Homo sapiens: one gene and its partner. The protein of the gene in region 2 interacts with the protein of the main gene of each other region in a biochemical or structural test. Each region holds a gene or a part of one and is shown on either strand. Other genes may lie near its edges.

Region 1 (7,353 bases), on a different chromosome or scaffold from region 2:
ACAGATCTACTTAATTTTTCTAGACTTAATTTCTCCATGTGCAAAACAGGGAAAATACTAGGACCTATCTCACAGAGTTGCTCTGAGGACTAAATGAGTTATTTATTTATTTATTTATTTTTGAGACCGAGTCTCACTCTGTTGACCAGGCTGGAGTGCAGTGGCGCGATCTCGGCTTACTGCAACCTCCGCCTCCCAGGTTCAAGTGATTCTCCTGCCTCAGCCTCCCAAGTAGCTGGGGCTACAGGTATGCACCACCAGGCCTGGCTAATTTTTTTTTTTAAGTAGAAATGGGGTTTCACCATATTGGACAAGCTGGTCTCAAACTCCTGACCTCAGGTAACCTGCCCACCTCGGCCTCCCAAAGAGCTTGGTATTACAGGCGTGAGCCACTGCACCTGGCCTTAAATGAGTTATTTATGTAAAAATGCCAGAACAGTGCCTGAAACAATGTGTTGTCTATTATTATTATTATTCAATTTAATAAGCTCTGAGTTTTCACTCACAAATGGATCTAAACCTTTCTTCAAGTTCTATTACGACATCTTTTGGGGTATGATTTTTCATGTGTTGACTACTTGTCTAGTAAAGTTCTTTTATTCAGAAGTAATTCCTTAAAATTTCAAGGAATGCCCTGAATGCTAGTGTTTATTCTAGCTGTCCTTCATGACTTTTGCATTTCAGGAACATACTTACTTTTTCATAATGGTATAGTCTTTTTAGTCTATCCTCAAGACGACTTGCTGGAATTTCATTTATTGCTTCCTTTGTTCTGTGTTCCCCACATTGCTCTGTTTTATGTGGTTGATCTATTGATTGAGACAGGGTCTCACTCTGTCACCAGAGTGCGGTGGTGTGATCATGGCTCACTGCATCCTTGCCCGCCCAGGCTCAGGCAATCCTTTCGTCTCAGCCTCCTGAGTAACCGGGACTACAGGTGTGCACCACCATGCCTGGCTAATGTATTTTTTTTTTTTTTGAGACAGAGTCTCGCTCTGTCGCCCAGGCTGGAGTGCAGTGGTGCGATCTCAACTCACTGCAAGCTCCGCCTCTCGGGTTCGAACCATTCTCCTGCCTCAGCCTCCAGAGTAGCTGGGACTACAGGCACCTGCCACCACGCCCGGCTATTTTTTTTTTATTTCATTTTTAGTAGAGACGATGTTTCACCGTATTAGCCAGGATGGTCTCGATCTCCTGACCTCGTGATCCGCCCACCTCGGCCTCCCAAAGTGCTGGGATTACAGGTGTGAGCCACTGTGCCTGGCCTGGCTAATGTATTTTTAAAACAATTTTTGTAGTGGTGAGTTCCTGGCTGGGCGTGATGGCTCATACCTGTAATCTTAGCACTTTGGGAGGCTGAGTTGGGAGGATCGCTTGAGGCCAGGAGTTTGAGACCAGCCTTTGCAATATAGGGAGACCTCGTTCCTACTGAAAATTAAAAAATTAGCCAGGCATGGTAGTGCTTGCCTGTGGTTCCAGCTACTTTGGAGGCTGAGGTGAGAGCATCACTTGGGCCTGGGAGGTTGAGGCTGCAGTGAGCGGTGATTGTGCCATTGCCCTCCAGCCTGGGTGAGAGAGCAATACCCTGTTTGGGGACGGGGGAAGAGACAGAGAGAGAGAAAGTGCTGAGATTATAAGCATGAGCCACCACGCCCAGCCAGCATGGCTGATCTCTCATTGAAGTCCTTTCTAGTGTGTACACGTTGGAGCCCGTAGGAATGAGAAACGTTATCTCTATTTCCCAACTTTCCTACTAGCTTTTCTTCCTTCGCTGAACAGCAGAGGCATGGTTCAATCTGATTACTTCACAGTTACTGAGTATCGAGTATTATTGCAGAAGGTAGATTTCCTATCTGTGGAGGTTCACTGGGTACAGTAAATTTTGCATTGAGAGGCTACAGAAGCAGGCAGGGAGAAGAGCAGAGTGAAAGAGTGGAAGAGCATGGCTTCGCATCCTGGCAGGTTTTGGTGGAACTTCATCACTCACAACTATTGGACTTATCACTCCACCTTTCTGAGTATGTTTTCTCCTCTGTAAAACGAGAGCAATAATAGTTACCCTTAAAGCTGGGTGTGGTGGTGCATGTCTGTAGTTCCAGCTACTCAGGAGACTGAGGCTGGAGGATTGCTTGAGCCCAGGAGTTGGAGTCTGTAGTGCACGATGATCACATATGTGAATAAACCCCTGTACTCCAGCCTGGGCAACAGAGTGCAACCCTATCACTTAAAAAATAAATAAATAAAATAAAAAATAATTACCCTTTTAGTGTTGACTGAAATCACAGATGTGAAGAGCACCTGCTGCATAGTAAGTGCTCAGAGTTAGTTTTCTTCTCCCAGTCTTTACATGTAGTTTTGAGAGTCTGTTGAACTCTTGAATAACAGCAGGTCAGACAAGGTATTTGCCCTCTCAATGTTTTTTTTTTTTGTTTTGTTTTGTTTTTGAGATGGAGTCTCCCTCTGTTGCCCAGGCTGGAGTACAGTGGCTCAATCTCGGCTCACTGCAACCTCAGCCTCCCAGGTTCAAGCGGTTCTCCTGCTTCACCTGCCTCAGCCTCCTGAGTAGCTGAGACTACAGGTGTGTGCCACTACGCCTGGCTAACTTTTTTTTTTTTTTTTTTTTTTTTGAGACGGAGTCTTGCTCTGTCTCCCGATCTGGAGTACAGTGGCACAATCTCGGCTCACTGCAACCTCTGCCTCCTGGGTTCAAGCGATTCTCCTGTCTCAGCCTCCTGAGTAGCTGGGACTACAGGTGCCCGCCACCATGCCCAGCTAATTTTTTTGTATTTTTAGTAGAGATGGGGTTTTGCCATGTTGGCCAGGCTAGTCTTGAATGCTTGACCTCAGGTGATCCACCTGCCTCGGCCTCCCACAGTGTTGGGATTACAGGTGTGAGCCTGGCACCTGGCCTCAACTTTTTATTTTGAAAAATTTCTCACGTATAGAAAAGTTGAAAGGATAATACTGAGAACTTCTGTAAAATTCCCATAAAAACTTAACCAAGATGCACTGTTCACATTTTGCTGAATTTGCTTTATGTCAGTCTCTCTCTCTCTTTCTCTCTCTCTCTCTCTCTATATATATATTTTTTTTTTTGGAAGGATTTGTGGTAAGTTACAGACATCAAGGATATTTCATCCTAGAATATTTCACCTTATCTCTCATAAGAGTAAGGTTATTCCCCTGTATAACCACAATATCATTATCACACAAGAAATTTAAGTGTTGATAAATAGTATTATTTAAAACAGAATCTGCACTCAAATTTTCACACTTAAAAAAAATCAGAATCTAGTGAAGAAACAGAGATTGCATTGATTTGTCTCTTTAGTCTTTTTTTTTTTTCCTTTCCTTCCTTTTTTTTTTTGTTTGAGACAGAGTCTTGCTCTGTTGCCCAGGCTGGAGTGCAGTGGTGCAATCTTGGCTCACTACAACCTCCGCTTCCTGGGTTCAAGCAATTCTCCTGTCTCAGCTTCCCAAGTAGCTGGAATTACAGGTGCCCGCCACCATGCCTGGCTAATTTTTTTGTATTTTTAATAGAGACAGGGTTTTGCCATGTTGGCCGGGATGGTCTCGAACCCCTGACCTCAAGTGATCCACCCACCTCGGCCTCCCACAGTGCTGGGAGCCACCGCGTCCAGCCTTAAACTTTGTTTGTTTGTTTGTTTGTTTTTTGAGACAGGGTCTTACTCTGTCACCCAGTCTGGAGTGGAGAGGTGTTATCACAGCTCACTGTAGCCTTGACCTCCTGGGTTCAAGTGATCCTCCAGCCTCAGCCTCCCGAGTAGCTGGGACTATAGTCATGCACTATGATGCCCAGCTAATTATTTTTTGTAGAGGTCGGGTCTCGCTGTGTCGCCCAGGCTGGTCTTGAACTCCTGACCTCAAGTGAGCCTCCCACCTCAGTCTCCCAGGCTTCTTTTACTTAACACATATTTTTGAGATTCATTCATGATGAGAACAGTGACAGTTTATTATCACTGCTTTATACAGTTATTGTATGAATGTGTTTGGCCATTTATTATTAACCATTCTACTCTTTTTTTTTTTTTTTTTTGAGACAATGCCTGGCTCTGTTGCCCAGGCTGGAGTGCAGTGGTACGATTTCGGCTCACTGCAAACTGCTTCCCAGGCTCAAGCCATCCTCCTACCTCAGCTCCCCTGGTAGCTGGGACCACAGGCGCATGCCACCACACCTGGCTAATTATTTTTGTATTTTTTGTAGAGACGGGGTTTTGCCATGTTGCCCAGGCTGGTCTTGAACTCCTGAGCTCAACCAGTCTGCCCGTCTGGGCCTCCCAAAGTGCTGAGATTACCAGTGTGAGTGACCACATCTGGCCACCATTCTACTTTTTGTTTTTTGAGACTGAGTCTTGCTCTATCACCCAGGCTGGAGTGCAGTGGCATGATCTTGGCTCACTGCAACCTCTGCCTCCCAGGTTCAAGTGATTCTTCTGCCTCAGCCTCCTGAGTAACTGGGATTATAGGCACTGGCCACCATGCCTGGCTAATTTTTGTGTTTTTAGTAGAGACGGGGGATTCACCATGTTGGCCGGGCTGGTCTCGAACTCCTGACCTCAAGTGATCCACCTACCTTGGCCTCCCAAAGTGGTGGGATTATAGGCGTGAGCCCCTGCGGGTGGCCCATCTTACTTTTTTTTTTTTTTTTGAAATGGAGTCTCGCTCTGTCACCGGCTGGAGTGCAGTGGCGCAATCTCAGCTCACTGCAACCTCCGTCTCCCGGGTTCAGGTGATTCTTCTGCCTCAGCCTCCCAAGTAGCTGGGACTACAGGCATGTGCCACCATGCCCGGCTAATTTTTGTATTTTTAGTAGAGATGGGGTTTCTTCATGTTGGCCAGGATGGTCTCGATGTCTTGACCTCATGATCCACCTGCCTTGGCCTCCCAAAGTGCTGGGATTACAAGCATGAGCCACCGTGCCTGGCCTGAGCCATTCTACTTTTAATGGACATTAGATTGTTTCACCTTTAGGGTCATTACAAATAGTACTGCTGTGAAAATACCTGTACGTGTCTTTTTGTGAACATAATATGTGCATTTCTGGTGAGTTCATCTACGTTTTTTATTTTTTATGGTATTGACATGTTTGGAGAGTCTGGACTACTTGTTTTGTGAAATGTTCCACCATCTGGATTTGTCTGATTTGTTCCCTTACATTTAGATCCGGGTTAAACATTCTTTTGTGAGAATATTATGTAAGTGACGTTGTGTCTATCTGTGTATCATATCTGGAGGAACGAGTCCCATTGTCGAAGATGAAGTTTGATTGTTTGGTTAAGGTGGTGTCTATCACATTTCTCCATCATAAAGTTAACTTGCTAAATTAGTTGCTTTCTTTGCAACTTTGCTAGTATTGTTTTAAATTTTTGAGACAGGGTCTCACTCTGTCACCCTGGCTGGAGTGCAGTGGCACAGTCATGGCTCGCTGCAGTCGTGACCTCCTGGGCTCAAGTGATCCTCCTGCCTTGGCCTCCCAAAGTGCTAGGATTACAGGTGTGAACATGGCCAAGTTTTTCTTTTTTTCTTTCTTGAGATGGAGTCTTGCTCTGTCTCCAGGGTGGAGTGCAGTGGTATGATCTCGGCTTACTGCAATCTCCACTTCCCAGGTTCAAGCGATTCTCCCCCCTCAGCCTCCGGAGTAGCTGGGACTGCAGGTGTGCACCACCATGCCTGGCTAACTTTTTATATTTCAGTAGAGACGGGGTTTCACTATGTTGGCCAGGATGGTCTCAATCTCCTGACCTCATGATCCACCCGCCTCGGCCCCCCAAAGTGCTGGGATTATAGGCGTGAGCCACTGCGCCTGGCCTGGCCAAGTTTTTTTTTAGTATTTTAGTTTAATATTGTATTGACTGACAAAGTCTTATGGCCTAAACTTTACTGTGGAATTCTAATAGGTGTGTTGTGATCAGTTTGAGTTTTGACAAATTGTATATACGTGTGTAACCACTACCACCCTAAACCTGTGTAACCACCACTGCCACAAGCAAGATCAACAGTTTCAGTATCCCTAAACGTTCCCTTACGCCCCTTCCCATTGAATCCTTGCCTGTGGTCCTAGGAAATCTGAACTGTTTTCTATTACTATAGAGTATATTTGTCCCTCCTAGAATTTCATATGAATGAATTATGTATTCTTTTATGTCTTTTTTGGCTCAGAATAATGTTTGTGAAATTTATTTGTGTTATGGTATGTATCAGTAATTATCAGTAATGAATTACCTTTTTTTTTTTTTTTTTGAGATGGTATTTCGCTCTTGTTGCCCAGGTTGAAGTGAAGTGGCTCAGTCTTGGCTCACTGCAACCCCTGCCTCCTGGGTTCAAGAGATTCCCCTGCCCCAGCCTTCCAGTAGCTGGGATTACAGGCGCCCACCACCATGGCCGGCTAATTGGCTAATTTTTTTGAATTTTTAGTAGAGACAAGGTTTCACCATGTTGGCCAGAGTGGTCTTGAACCCCTGACCTCAAATGATTTGCCCACCTCGGCCTCCCAAAGTGCTGGGATTACATGTGTGAGTCACTGCGTCCAGCCAATTTTTTTTTGTTTAGTAGAGATGGGGTTTCACTGTGTTGGTCAGGCTGGTCTCCAACTCCTGACCTCATGTGATCCAACTGCCTTGGCCTCCCAATGTGTTGGGATTACAGGCGTGAGCCACTGCGCCTGACCATGAATTACTTTTTACCGCTGAGTAGTATTCCATCGTATGGATGGCTATATCTCAATTTGTTGATCTGTTCACCAGTTGATGGACATTTGTAGTAGTTTTTGATTCCTGCGTAACAGTATTACCACAAATTTAGCCGCTTGGCACAGCACACATTGATTATCTCATGGTTTCTGTGGGTCAGGAGTCAGGAAACCACTGGGCTGAGTCTCACCAGGCTACTATTGAGAAATCTGTCAGGACTGTGGTCGCTGACTAGGGAGGGGTCTGCTTCCTAGCTTGTGTGGTTGTTGGTGGCATTCAGTTCCTTATGGACCATGAGACTGGAGACTTTAGTGTGTTACTGTCAGCCAGCGGCCGCCCTCAGTTTCTTGCCAAATGAGTCTTCCCACTTGCCTCCTCAAAGCCAGCAGAAGAGAGAGTCTCTTAGTAAAGTGGACATTACCACGACGTATCTCACCCACATTAATGCAGTCACGTACATGCTGTCACCTTTGCCATATTGTGTTGGCCAGAAGCAAGTAACAGATCCTGGCCACATTTGAGTAGAAGGAACAGCACAGGGGCATGGATACCAGGAGGTGGGGATCATGGGGTCACCTTAGAGTCTGTTCCCCACAGGATTCCTTCTCATTCTGGGCTACTGTGAGTATTTGTGTATGTGTAA
Region 2 (8,054 bases):
CAGGCCAGGCGTGGTGGCTCACACCTGTAATCCCAGCACTTTGGGAGGCTGAGGCAGCAAGATTGCTTGAGCCCAGGAGTTCAAGACAAGCTGGTCAACATAGTGAGACCCCATCTCTACAAAAAATTTAAAAATTATCCAGGCGTGGTGGCATGTGCCTGTAGTCCCAGCTACTTAGAGGCTGAGTTACAAGGATTGCTTGAGCCCGGGAGGTTGAGGCTGCAGTGAGCTGTGATGGCACCAGTGCACTCCAGCCTGAGCAACACAGAGAGACCCTGTCTTAAATAAATAAATAAATAAATAAACAAATAAATAAAGCACTCAGAAAAGCACCTAGTGCATAGTTAATATCATACCATATAAATTGAGCCATCACTATTATTGTTGTAAAGTACTATACAGGATGATTATGATGGTCACTTCTTAGATACAGAAGCAGAGTTCTGCTGTGTCTACAAGGAGAGGAACACTATAGGAAGCATTGAGTTCTGCCCTGAACTCCTAGTCCAGGCTTTAAAAAAGAGCCATAAAAATGCCATCCCACTGATGAGCCTCTGGAGCAAGGGAGGTGTGCCTTGACCATCCTGGAAAAACATCATCTCCACCCTACCTATACTTATCTCCTTGGCTCGCTTCTGGCCAAAGGTCCACACTTGGTCTGAACCTATTGCATGCAGAGCTTTGCCACAGATGTCCCTGTACTGAGGGGCTCTGGCTGGTTGGGATGTTCGAAGGGACAGCTGTGGATGCTGTTTATTGGCCTGAAATGTGGAACCAGTGTGGAGAAGGCAAGACAGGCTAGGTTGACGTCAGATGTAGGCTTTTCATTTTTATTTTTTGAGAAAGGGTCTTGCTCTGTCACCCAGGCTTGAAGGATTGAGTGCAGTGGCGCATCATAGTTTACTGCAGCCTTGAACTCCTGGGCTCAAGCGATCCTCCTGCCTTAGCCTCTCAAGTAGCTGGGACTATAGGCACGTGCCACCATGACCAGCTAATTAGAAAACATTTTTCAATAGAGATGGGGTCTTGCTATGCTGCCCAGGCTGGTCTCAAAGTCCTAGGCTCAAGTGATCCTCCTGCCTTGGCCTCCCAAAGTGCTAGGATTACAGGCATGAGTCACTGTGCCCAGCCAGATGTGGGCATTTTTGATTTTTGCATGGAAGAGTCAATAATTGGATTCCAGGGCTGGGCACGGTGGCTCACACCTGTAGTCCCAGCACTTTGGGAGGCTGAGGCAGGTGGATGGCTTGAGGTCAGGAGTTTGAGACCAGCCTGGAGAACATGGAGAAATCCTGTCTCTACTAAGAATACAAAAATGAGCTGGGCATGGTGGCATGCAACTGTAATCCCAGCTACTCGGGTGGCTGAGGCAGGAGAATCACTTGAGCCCGGGAGGCAGAGGCTGTGAGTGAGCCGAGATCGCACCACTGCACTCCAGCCTAGGCGACAAAGCGAGACCCTGTCTCAAAAAAAAAAAAAAAAAAAGAATTGGATTCTAGGTCAGAAAGTAATATTACAGAACTTCGGAGTGCTATGAGATTCTTTCTTCTTCTTTTTTTTAAATTGAGGCAGAGTCTTGGTCTGTTGCCCAGGGTGGAGTGCAGTGGCCCAATCTTGGCTCACTGCAACTGCGGAGGCCTCCCAGATTCAAGACATTCTCATGCCTCAGCCTCCTGAACAGCTGGGACTACAGGTGGACACCACCATGCCTGCCTAACTTTTGTACTTTTAGTATAGATGGTTTTTCACCATGTTGGCCAAGCTAGTCTTGAACTCCTGGCCTCAAGTGATCTGCCCACCTCGGCCCCCTAAAGTGCTGGAATTACAGGCATGAGCCACCGCGCTGGGCTGAGATTCTTTCTTCTTTCTTGCCTTACATCAGCCTGAACGAGTCCAGTGATTGACAAGTGTTCAATGGGCTGTCACATGGTTTCTTCTGCTCTTCACAGCCACCCTATGCAGCAGGTGTTAGTATTAGTGTCCTCAGATGAGACAACTGAGGCACAAAGAAGTATGGTGACTTTCTAGAGGTCACCTGGCTTTGTCACTGAAGGAACCAGGATTCTTTTTTATTTTTTAAAAATTTTTATTTATTTTATTTGAGGCAAGGTCTCACTCTGTCGCCCAGGCTGGAGTGTAGTGGTGTATCTCAGCTTACTGCAGCCTCGACCTCCTGGGCTCAACCCATCCTCTCACCTCAGCCTTCTGCGCAGCTGAGACTATAGGCGTGCTCCACCACGCCTGGCTAATTTTTGTAGAGACAGGGTTTCACCATGTTGCCCAGGCTGGTCTTGAATGCCTGAGCTCAAGCAATCCTCCTGCCTTGGCCTCCCAAAGTGCTGGGATTACAGGCATGAACCACTGTGCCCCACCTGAAGGAACCAGGATTCTAGCCATGCCTCTCATCTCCAGTCCAGTGTGCTTTCTGCTACAAAAACAACAACTCATCCCCTGCTACAGCAGGCTGAGCAAATCTGCCTCCTCAGGCAAGGAGCCACACTGAGCCCTCTGCCAAATGGAAGGAACAACCCCAAGTTCCAGAGCCTAGGTAGGGCTAGGGAAGGGGTTGTAACGAGGATACTGGCATCTCAGGTGCTCTGCCAGTTTTCCCAAAATAAAACTATTCAAACAATACAAATATTAATATGGGCCTGGCCTTATACATCTGAAAGGACTGTCCTTATTTCCACTGTGTTTTTTGTCTCAAAGATGAGGAAATGACAGAAGAGATGATTTCAAAGGCTGTCCCATGAGCTCCAACTTAGAGACAGAAGTTTGGCTAAGTAAAGACAATACGCATTTATGTTCCCCCAGAGGGAATGAATTCGCTTCTGTTTAGGATTTCTGTGTCTTCGCTTGAGAAAGTCTAAGTACTTGTAGACATAGAGGAGATGATGTGTCCCACTGGATGTGTGTTGAGGAATCCATTTGTGGGCATAATAGTGCTAAACAGTGGTTACATACGGACTGATATGAAGCCCGGGAATAGTTGAAAATTGGGTGAATCAGAAATGGAATACAATCATATTTTTATATGGTTTCTAGCTCTCCTCTCTCCTGCCTTAAATATCTTGACCTCATTCTGGCTGTCTCACTACTAAATAGGCAAATTTACTTTTAGCAAGGCTGCTTCTGTTAAGACTGTGCCTCCATCTCCTGGACAAATTTGGAATAGCAAGAAATTTGTTAGGAAAGGGACTTTTCCAGGCAGCAGCCGCTTAGAGCTGGCCGCTTCTGAGCATGTTCGTCTTCCCAGGCCTGGCTCACATTTTCAGTGCTTAATGCGCATGGCGCTTTATGCGCAATATTACTTAATTCTTCCCTCAGCCATTGGGAGCTAAGGACAAACTGTTATCCCAATTTTACAGGTGAGGAAATCAGAGCTTATTTAAATAAATTGCCGAGGTCACACAACTAGTAAGCGACAAAATCTCAGTCAAACCGAGGCTCTTTTGGTTCAAAGATGTGTATTGAGCTCTACTCTGCTCTGCAGGGACAGAACTAAGTATGTTTGCTATTCAGGGGATACACAGTCATTCCATGAGCAAGTTACACAATGTAAAATAAGGACATTGTGAAAAACAAAACCATACCGTACATAATGCACTTTATAGTAAAGTACTGGGAACAGAGTATTTGGTAAATTGTAACTATAATAATAATTTTAAACAGATCCACAAATCACACTTATTATTATATTCTGTTTCACCCGGGCTTTGCCAAGCTTCCCACATTTGTACTAGATCCTCTTGGCTTTAGTTTCTCCCCAGTTCTCTACCCTTTGAATTCACTCCAAAGCTTCCCTAGAATCTTTGCTCTCCTAGAAATTAGATTAAACAGGCACCTGCTCACATCATACATCCCCTGCCCTTGTCACCAGACATGCACACATCCATCTTCTGGGATTTCCGTTCTCTTGCAGAAAAGTCTGCATGGGAAGCTGAGGCAGAACCAAGTCCACCAGACTCCGAGGAAAGAGAAGTCTGGACCCTGTAACCAGATAAAAGTGAAACCAGGACTTCATTTATTCCACAAATACTTTTTGACTACCTATAGATGACAGGCACTGTTCAAGGCATTGAGGTTCCCACAGTGAACAAAAGAGACAAAAACGTCTGCCTTTGTGAGTTTATATCATAGTGGAAGGAAATAGACAATAAAAATAAGTAAAATATAGACATTGGTATGTAGATGGTGATAAATGATAAGGAGAAATATAAAGACAGATCGGAAGTGACAACAGTGGGGAAGTGGAATTGGTATCTGCATTTAACGTTGTTTTTTAACAGCAAATTCAGGATGGGGCAGAGAGCAGTGAGAAAAATGAGGCCCTTATGCTCAGCGCCCCCAACCCCGCCTCGGTGGGGTCACTATTCATTTTGGAACATTGCCCTTGGGACCAACATATTCTCAGTGGTCCTTGTGAAGGTTTCCACCCTAAGTCCCTCATCCTCACCAGGCAATATTCATTACCCTACAGCAAACTCCGGAGGCAACGCGGAGAAAGTGTGAATCAATTCAAGACTAAGGTTGCCAAAATGTTTGATCAGCTCTGCGTCAGCCTTGACATTACATTACATTACAGATCCCCTGATCGCCACCGTCGCAGAAGCTCTGAATTAAAAGCGTGCATGTAGCTGCACATCCATTGCTGGCACTTCTTCCGTTAGCCTCCGCTGGAACTGGTTAGTGAGGACCCCTCCATTTCACAAGACAGCTTCGGTTTTGCTTCGTTTTGACTTCCGCACCCCGAAGCTGTAGCACCAGTTTGTTTTCTCACGGCACAGGGGCGGCTTCCGGGGCGCGGCGTGCTGGGGGTTGTAGTCCGCGCTCTGCCTCCTACTTCCATTACAGAAGGCGATGGGCCGAGAGCTGAGGAACTACAACTCCTAGAGTACTCCGCGCCGCCGGGACGCCGCGCGGCTGCGGGGCTGGGCGAGCGCAAAGATGTCCGCGCCCGCTGCCGGGAGGCGAGGTGAGTCTTTGATCGTAACCAGGAGCCCGGAGCTGAGGCAGTTCCTGCACGTGTCGCGGGGCCGGAGAAGCTAGGGCCAGGTATTCCAGGGATGCAAGAATCCTGCAAATCTGACGTGTAAACTGCTTCCCCAGCCTCCAGGCGAGCCCAGCTTTTGCCTCAGATAGGCCCCTTCCTTTTCCTTCTCGGGGAATCGACCTCGGGAAGGGGTGTGGGCAAAGAGATGAGGACTCTCCCTCTTCGCCCAGGCCAACTCGGGATATCCCGGAGCCTCTGGGGAGGCGGTCACTCCGACGTCTGAGGACCTGGGCCTTGGACCCGGACTCGTTATGAAGAGCGATTCTTCGACCTCTGCAGCCCCCCTCAGGGGGCTCGGGGGACCCCTGCGCAGCAGCGAGCCGGTGCGCGCGGTCCCGGCCCGGGCGCCGGCCGTGGACCTTCTGGAGGAGGCGGCCGACCTCCTGGTGGTGCACCTGGACTTCCGGGCGGCGCTGGAGACCTGCGAGCGGGCCTGGCAGAGTCTGGCCAACCACGCCGTGGCAGAGGAACCCGCGGGCACGTACGTGCTGGGCTCGGAAATGAACCGATTTCCGGGCGCTCTTGTGGTGGGGCTCAAGGTCTCAGGAGTTCTGTCCTTCCCAGATTGCCCACAAGGAGCTTTACACCTCGCTTTCATCAGTGGTTTGTCTCCGAGAGGGTGGTCGCTCATCGTGTGCCCATTCTACAGAGAAGGGAAGTCGTGTAACAAAAACTTAGTGGGGATCCCACAGCCAATTATTTGCTCCTTGTTCCAAGGTACAATGACATGATGGGAAGGCTGAATGTGTATTAAGTGCTAAGTTCTGTCAGTAAGCAGGTGGTAAAAGTCCTCTCCCAGGTACCTCCGCCCTCCCCGCCCCGCCCAAGGTTGTTTATTCCTGACCTTGGCTGATGATGGGGAATGGGGGTCATGGCAGGAGCAGCGTTCTGGTCCAATTAGAGGACTGGATTAAAGAATTAATTCAGGGCCGGGAGCTGGGGCTTACGCCTGTAATCCCAGCACTTTGGGAGGCCGAGGCAGGAGGATTGCTTGAGCCCAGGAGTTCGAGACCAGCCTGGGTAACATAATGAGCCCTCTTCTCTACCAAAAAGAAGAAAAAGAAAAGAATCCGGAGAAAAAAACCTTGGGCTTGCATTGCTCTTTCTAATGCCACCAGCCTCGTCTGGCAGGTGAGGGAGTCATTTCTTTGCATTGTAAACTTGGGTTAGGCCACGCTAGGGAGGTGGTAGGTAGAATAGCTAAAGTTGACCACAAAGAAGGATGATCTGGAGAGCCCTGGCTGTGTTTTAGGGGACTGGGTGGGAGCTCATTTCAGTGAATGCAGAAGGCTTTGCTTCTGGGTGTCTGGAGGAACCTTACTAGGTGGTGCCTTTTAGCCAGCTATGGAGTCTATACCTCCACTCAGCCAGAAACCTTGCTCCAAGCCCATTTGTTCACAGAGCAAACTCTTAGTTCCAGCTCTCTTTTCAGCCACACACCGGTGCTGTGTGTTATTTCCCCCTCAGGATTACCCTTCCTCTTCATTTAAATCTGATTTCACCTGGATACAAAGATGAACGTTGAGCAACAGCTGACTTGCCTCTTGAAAGAGGGTTACAGGAACTTTTAGTTCCTGGGGGAAAGGGCAGCCCATGAGACCAATTGTGAAGCCCATCTAAATACTAACAGGGATGAGAGAGATGATGGCTGCTGAGTTGGGAGCTGGAGAGGAACAGTCCCAAGGTGGAGGTGGGAATGGAAATGGAGGGGAACCACTTCTAACTGAAATTGGTTTTTCTGCTGACAGCTCATTGGAGGTGAAGTGCTCCCTGTGTGTTGTGGGGATCCAGGCCCTGGCAGAAATGGATCGGTGGCAAGAAGTCCTCTCCTGGGTCCTTCAGTATTACCAGGTCCCTGAAAAGCTACCCCCCAAAGTCCTGGAGCTGTGGTAAGTCTTCTTTGCTGACTCATCAGATCGGTTCAGAAACGAGAGGATTTTCATCTCCTCTCCTAAATACCTACTCTTTTCCCCTTCCCTACTATTGCCCTCCAGATCGGATTCTTTCCCTTCACTTTTTTTTCCCCAGACTTCCATACATAGCAATAAAGAATAAGGGGGAGGAATTTAGGAGTAGAATAGATATAAAGAAGGGAGGAAACAGGGAATAGGAGCGACGTGGGATGACAGAGTGGACAGAGCTGAAAGAGCAGCTTGCTACGTCCTAGGAATTCCTAATTCTTAAAAAAAAATTTTGTTTTGTTTTGTTTTGTTTTGTTTTTTGAGACGGAGTCTCGCCCTGTCGCCCAGGTTGGAGTGCAGTGGCACAGTCTCTGCTCACTGCAAGCTCCACCTCCCGGGTTCACACCATTCTCCTGCCTCAGCCTCCCGAGTAGCTGGGACTACAGGCGCCTGCCACCACGCCCGGCTAATTTTTTTGTGTTTTAAGTAGAGACAGGGTTTTACCGTGTTAGCCAGGATGGTCTCAATCTCCTGACCTCGTGATCCACCTGCCTCGGCATCCCAAAGTGCTGGGATTACAGATGTGAGCCATCGCCCCTGGCCAAAAAATAACAAAGTTTTTAAAATTGACACTTGTACATATTTATGGGGTAAATTAGACATTTCAATATATGCTGTGTATATGTTGTATAATGATCAAATCAGGGTAGTTAGCATATCCATCACCTCATGCATTTATCATTTGTTTGTGACAGGAACATTCAAAAGCCTCTCTTCCGGCTATTTTATATATACAATACCTTACTGTTAACCATAACCACCCTACCGTGCAATAGAACACCACAACTTATTCCTCCTATCCCACCGTAACTTTGTACCCATTGACGAACCTCTTCCCGTCTTCCTTTTCTTCCTTCCTTTCCCAGTCTCTGGTAACCACCGTTCTACCGTCTGCTTCTATGATATCAACTTTTTTTTTTTTTTAAAGATTCACATGAGTGAAATCATGTAGTATTTATCTTTCTGTGCCTGGCTTATTTCACTTAACATGATGTCCCCCAGGTCCACCTGTGTTGTCATGAATGACAAGATTTCATTCT

Evidence for each region. Proteins that work in one complex are often made in the same cells at the same time.
Region 1: the proteins of PEX26 (region 2) and PEX14 form a complex in vitro, tested with the Homo sapiens proteins (one study listed by BioGRID).

Annotation. Positions count from the first base shown.
Region 1 is NC_000001.11:10,477,785-10,485,137, forward strand, and holds part of PEX14 (peroxisomal membrane protein PEX14), read left to right. Parts: intron 1-6,708; exon of another isoform or gene 6,709-7,253; coding exon of another isoform or gene 7,254-7,331; intron 7,332-7,353. UniProt on the Homo sapiens protein: Component of the PEX13-PEX14 docking complex, a translocon channel that specifically mediates the import of peroxisomal cargo proteins bound to PEX5 receptor.
Region 2 is NC_000022.11:18,073,073-18,081,126, forward strand, and holds the start of PEX26 (peroxisome assembly protein 26), read left to right. Parts: upstream 1-4,917; 5' UTR 4,918-5,304; coding exon 5,305-5,534; intron 5,535-6,801; coding exon 6,802-6,942; intron 6,943-8,054. UniProt on the Homo sapiens protein: Peroxisomal docking factor that anchors PEX1 and PEX6 to peroxisome membranes. PEX26 is therefore required for the formation of the PEX1-PEX6 AAA ATPase complex, a complex that mediates the extraction of the PEX5 receptor from peroxisomal membrane.